2 separate regions of the Homo sapiens genome follow, and region 1 is linked to region 2. Evidence: fine-mapped expression QTL. A gene starts in region 2. The other region holds a variant in brackets. All regions are shown on one strand. Distances are between the middles of the regions.

Region 1 (2,913 bases), 230 kb after region 2:
TCTGAAATACATGTTCAGTAAGATTCATTGGTCAAGATAATAAGATGGGCCCAAGTGATGTATTAATACAATCAGGTACACGTTTTAGGATCCAACGGTCCAACAACAAGTGGAAAATACTGTTGAAAAATAAAAATCCCCAATCCGCACTGGAAATAGTAGATGTTCAGTTAAAGGCCTGACAGTGACAGCACGTGCAGGTAGGAAAAATAAACTATGCGTGCTTGCAGAATATTGGATGGGAGCTATAACCCAGAATGGTAATTATTTTACTAAGCCTACCCAGGTCAGAATTCAGTGCCTATGTGTTTGTTTGTTTGTTTGTTTTTGAGATGGAGTCTCGCTCTGTCGTCCAGGCTGGAGTGCAATGGCACAATCTTGGCTCACTGCAATCTCCGCCTCCTGGGTTCAAGCGATTCTCCTGCCTCAGCCTCCCGAGTAGCTGGGATTACAGGTGTCCGCCACCACACCAGGCTAATTTTTTGTATTTTTAGTAGAAACGGAGTTTCACCATGTTAGCCAGGATGGTCTCCATCTCCTGACCTTGTGATCCACCTGCCTTGCCCTCCCAAAGTGCTGGGATTACAGGCATGAGCCACCGTGCCCAGCAGCCTATATTTTTAAAAGTCAGACTCTGGCATCCTAATTGCCAGATCATTGCCTTGAACTGAGAACATTCTTCTGGACATTTCCTGCATCAAAGGAAGACTATTTGAAACATTCCTTGTGAGAGGTCAGGAGATCGAGACCATCCTGGCTAACACGGTGAAACCCTATCTCTACTAAAAATACAAAAAATTAGCTGGGCCTGGTGGTGGGCGCCTGTAGTCCCAGCTACTTGGGAGGCTGAGGCAGGAGAATGGCATGAACCCAGGAGGCGGAGGTTGCAGTGAGCCGAGATCGTGCCACTGCACTCCAGCCTGGGTGACAGAGCGAGACTCTGTCTCAAAAAAAAAAAAGAAAAGAAACATTCCTTGTGAGGTTTAAAGTAGCATGACAAATCATTCCACAACCAACTTTCCTATAGGCATAAAGGTAGATTTTAAAAAATTTATCTGAGAGCTGATACCTGACCTGCATCTTGAAGGACCCATTATTCTCTTGGCATGTGGACTCTTTCCTATATCTTTCCTTCATTAAAGACATGGTTTGCTTCCAACAATTGGAAGCAAACTCAAGTTGTGTTTCAATTTTTGGTAACACATGAGAAAGTCTTATCACAGGATCAGGATTGGCTGCATAGGAGAGAAAGCTCAAATAACAGGGCTTACAAGAGACAGAGCTATATTTTTCTCTCACTTGAAGGATTGAGAAATAAGGAGTTCTAGGCTAGTAGAAAATTGGCCTCATGATTATTAGGACTCTAGCTCCTACCCTCTGTTCTGTCATCTTTTGAAACTGGTTTCTATCCTCAAGAATCCTCGTGGTCCAGAATGGCTACTTGTGCTCCAGCCATCAGGTCCATGTTCCAGGCAAGAAGAGGAGAGGGAGAGCCAAGGGGCACATTTTCCGCTTGAGTTGGCCTCTTTGAAGGAGCTTTTCCCCACCTCCCACCCAGCACTTCTGCTGA[T/G]ATCTCATTGCATCCTGAGTGATAAGTAAGTCTCAAAAACGTGGTCTTTTCAGCCGGACGCCTTTTGGTCCCAGGTAAACCAGTGTTCTACTACTGAGAAACAAATTGATAATAGGGAGTGGATAGACAACAAGCTGCCTCTGCCAGCTCATGTCAGCCTGGGTACAAAGAAAGTACTATCTCATTTCTGGACATTGTCAGTGAGCCTTTATTCCTGGCTGGTCACCTGTCAGTGCAGGGATCACCCAGGCTGACTCGGTGGGTTGCGGAAGCACCCTTCCTTCATTCCTGCCTGGGGGTGTCCTTGCCTATCCAGCCACTGTGCTTAACTCCTCAGCACAGACTCAAAGCATTGCCATCTCTCCTTATACTGGTTTCATATCAATATCTCAAAGTATACTTGTTCATTCACTGTGGAACAAATAAATAAATGGTGTGGATTCAAATATTCTGCAATTTGTTAGCTGTGTGATATGCAAATTGCCTAACCTCTTTGTGCTTCTGTTTCCTCATAAGAAAGGATGATAATATTATCTAATTCTGAGGGCGGTTGTGGCAATTAAATCCATTAATTAGCATAAAAGGGTATTAGGTATTATCTTGAATTTTGTATCTTTGATTTATGGTGCGGCACTGGGTGGGCACGGACCTCCGGGACCTTCCAATACCGTGGGAAACATCAGCTGGACGTGGACCAGAGCGTCAAAAAGCAACACAAATGCATGTGTTCATCAAAAGAATGGTCCAGACGGTGAGGGCCGTGGGCTTCAGCAAAGGAGAAACAGGCACTAGTGTCATCAGTGGGAACTTATCGCAGGCTCCCTGCAACCTCACCTGGACAGCGCGGCGCTGTGTGAACAGCCAGCAGGAGGCCTTTTCGCTTCTGCCTCCTGCTTTCCTTCCCGGCTGATGTCCTCCCCTCCCCTTTAATTTAAATTGGCACCAGTTTCCTATTCTCTCGGCAGCCCTAGTTCTTTCCCTCATTTAACCTTTTCATAGAATCTAGTGGGGACTTTATCGACCAGATGCCAAGGGGCTGCCAGGGCAGGGCTGGCCTTCAGAGGAGGGGCATGGTGTGCCCAAGTCCTGCAGTTGGGGAAGGAGTAGGGAGCTGAGACCACAGAGGGACAGGGACAGAGGCTAGGGAGCAGCGTGCGCGGACACCTTGCCTGCGGGGAAGGCCTACGGAGGCCTTGCAGACAGCGTCTCAGCCGACACACAGGGCCCTTTAAGAAAAGAGGCACCGTGTTCTTTAAGAGTTCTGTAGCAGAGTCCTGGCAGTCCCGGGACTTCACACGCTGCACATTTACTTGTGCTTTTATTTACTTAATCTCTGTCTGTCC
Region 2 (2,913 bases):
AATTGTAGTAATCCTAATCCTTGCTAAAACCAACTTTAATACTTGTGATGCTTCTGTACTCTATTTCTATAAAATAATGTGTGAGATTCTATTACATTTCCATAAAATGTACAACATATCATATGGATTATATGTTCTCATACAATCTCAAATGTGTATGTGTACACACAGTGAAATCTTACCTACTAGTATTGCTTACAGATACTTTCAGGTGTCTGTTAGAATAATTCTTTGCACCTCTCACTAACACTGCTTTTACTTACATTTTTTCAGATAAATAAAACACTAAGAGCTCATTGTTCATGATGCTGATCATTACATTTTAATATAAAATAGCGATGCAACTTTACAACACAATAGTTTTCCCCTGTAGCCTAGCTCAGCCTCTTGTATTGTCATGATTATTACCGAAGGCTTTTATTTACTTACTGTTTGCACTTCTAAAAAATGCAAACAAATTGCAGAAAAAGACTCCTATTTGAAAACTCACATTCAATCAGCAAAATCACACTCATCCAAATTAACTCGCCTCCTCTTGCTTTAAAGGTTGTAATCACTGTGCATATTACAACATGTATGTGCAGGCAAACAATAGCTAAAGTACAGTTACAGTTGTCATATTGTGTAAACCAAGACACTAGGCAAACTTGTGAAAAGAATACACACTGCCAAGCGAAGAATATGAAAATGCAAACCACAGCATTCCCCAATAAACAATTTTCTGGTCGTCTTGGGGGAGAACATCGCCTGGGGGGAGATGTTGAAATGGAGCCACGAGGCTGGACAGCCTCCTGGAGACACTTTTTTTTTTTTTTTTTGCCTCAAATATTTGACCATTTTTAAATATCATGATTTTTTTCTTTCTGATCCCACATTTTGACGTGTCAAAGCTTAGAGCAGGAAGTAGGAATCCACACTTTCACGGAGGGGGACCAGCCTGCCATGTCGTCCCCAGGCTCACAGCAGCGGCGGCTACTCTGCTGGTGGTTTGGTGGCAGGTGGAGATGGTGACGGCGCATTGGAAACCGTAAGGCATGACAACGGGAGGCCCGCGGGGTGTTTCAGGCGCGTTGACGCAGGTGCATGGCTGGCAGGCGGCCTCTACAGAAGGAGGGAGCGCAATTCACAGCCTCTTGACGTAGTTTCCGGGGAAAGTACCAAAGAATTTGGTTCTTCTTGAGGTCCCTGAAAATAGAAGCGAGTCATGAAAGGGGGGTGACAACGATATCAGTTCATACACATGGGCTTGAATACTTCCCATTTACAAGGCCTCGGAAGACAGCAAGCCCCGAGGGGTTTGGAAAAGAAGGCAGGCAACTCACATGAAGCCCATAGGCAGACAAAATAAGCAGTGTTAGCTGGTTGCCTGACGCTCTCACTGCCCCTCCGGCATAAATGCTGCGCTGCCATCGCGGCAGGCTAAACAGAAATGCTGAGCCTCCCAAGCTAAAGGGAAAGTCAGCCCTGCTGAGGAGGGGGGCGGAGGAGCTCAGTCACTGAGGCTGCCACACCAGAGTCGGGGGTGAGGGATCAAGGCGAGGCTGACAGGTGACAGGGTGAGTGGAAAATCCTAAGAGCAAAGCTTCTCAGGGACCAGCAACCCGCGCAACACAGGTGCGACATGAAGACATCATCTGTGGCAGGCTGTCGCTGTTCCAACAGTTTTATCATCTTACAGAAGATCATGGTCAGTGCCACATCATTTATTTAAAAACAGCACTGCCAGAGTCCTTCATCGAGTATACAATTTTTCAACAATTTACAAATCATTAATGAAAAAAAGGATTAAGCACTATTTGTGTGTGGGAGTTCTATCAGTGGCATGATTTTTAACATGGTGTGTGTTTAACCACACGCACAAATGGCTATCATAATTATGTTCGCCTCTGGTTTCAAATAATGTAATTCCTTGGACACTTCTTGTAAAAGTTGGTGCACTAAATTGCTAAATTCTTCTTTAGGCAGCGCAGATGGACCGGATAAGGGTCTCTCAAGCTTCATCTGTCTCCTATATCCTGGCACTTACTGCCTTGGTTTGATGGCTGTTTTTCTTTTTCCTTGGCTAGGCAAGCCATTTTACGTTTCTCCTCCCTCCTCCTCCTCCCTCCTCCTCCTCCTCCTTGTTTTTGAGATGGAGTTTCGCTCTTGTCGCCCAGGCTGGAGTGCAGTGGCATGATCTCGGCTCACTGCAACCTCTGCCTCTTGGGTTCAAGCAATTCTCCTGCCTTAGCCTCCTGAGTGGCTGGGATTACAGGCACCTGCCACCAAGCCCAGCTGATTATTGTACTTTTGGTAGATACGGGGTTTCACCATGTTGACCAGGCTGGCCTCGAACTCCTGGCCTCAGGTAATCCACCCGCCTCGGCCTCCCAAAGTGCTAGAATTACAGGCATGAGCCACCGCACCCGGCCTTTTTTTCTTCTTTTAATGGAAATAAAATCAGAGGCTTGTGGCCGCACCAGGGCCTCAATTCTTTCATGATTTTGCCACCGATGGATGTCTAGAGTGAGCCCTCCTCTCCTCTCACCTTTCCTCTCTTCCATTCTCTGCCCTGCAGCCTGTGTTTCCTTTTCACCTCTTTCTGTGGCCCAGTGTAAAATACTTTTGTCTACAAATGTTTTCCCAGAAGACCTCTCGTCTTTTTTTTTAGGATGGTAAAGATGAAGTTGCCTTTTAAGTGGGAAGAATGGAACGTCTCTCTGCTTCCACCACAAACTAAAGTTAAGGTGAGTCACTGAATGTTCGGGCATCTACGTCAGACCTAGGAAACGGGAGAGCTGTTCACTTAATCTCACTCCCTCTGAAATTAGATTCTCACTGTGGACAACTAACATTTTCCACAGCACAGAGCGTTGATATTTCTCTTCTGGGGACCATTTGTTGTTGTTGTTCTTAGATCTCAATCTTTCCTGG

Direction of the effects. Positions count from the first base shown, and alleles are read on the strand shown. Sizes are in standard deviations (SD) of each study's normalised expression.
For the expression in esophagus mucosa of the gene that starts at base 1,422 in region 2, T is the high allele of the variant in region 1 and G is the other (small effect, 0.25 SD a copy in GTEx).

What was found. PIP is the estimated chance that this variant, and not a neighbour inherited with it, causes the effect.
Region 1: its variant is fine-mapped to the expression of SORBS2-AS1 in esophagus mucosa (GTEx, PIP 0.95).

What each region holds. Positions count from the first base shown.
Region 1 is chr4:185,817,879-185,820,791 of GRCh38, forward strand. It overlaps a transcript of SORBS2 not described here. Among named protein-coding and RNA genes, the nearest start is that of SORBS2, 7.1 kb to the left of the region's middle. The variant T/G (reference allele first, on the strand shown) is at 1,571.
Region 2 is chr4:185,586,504-185,589,416 of GRCh38, forward strand. It overlaps SORBS2-AS1 (SORBS2 antisense RNA 1), which reads left to right and starts at 1,422. Exons shown (of 4, transcript NR_186082.1): 1 at 1,422-1,687; 2 at 2,651-2,726. SORBS2 (sorbin and SH3 domain containing 2) reads right to left here. Exons shown (of 27, transcript NM_001395207.1): 27 at 1-1,185. The coding sequence ends at 1,124. RefSeq lists enhancers at 519-1,718, 997-1,076.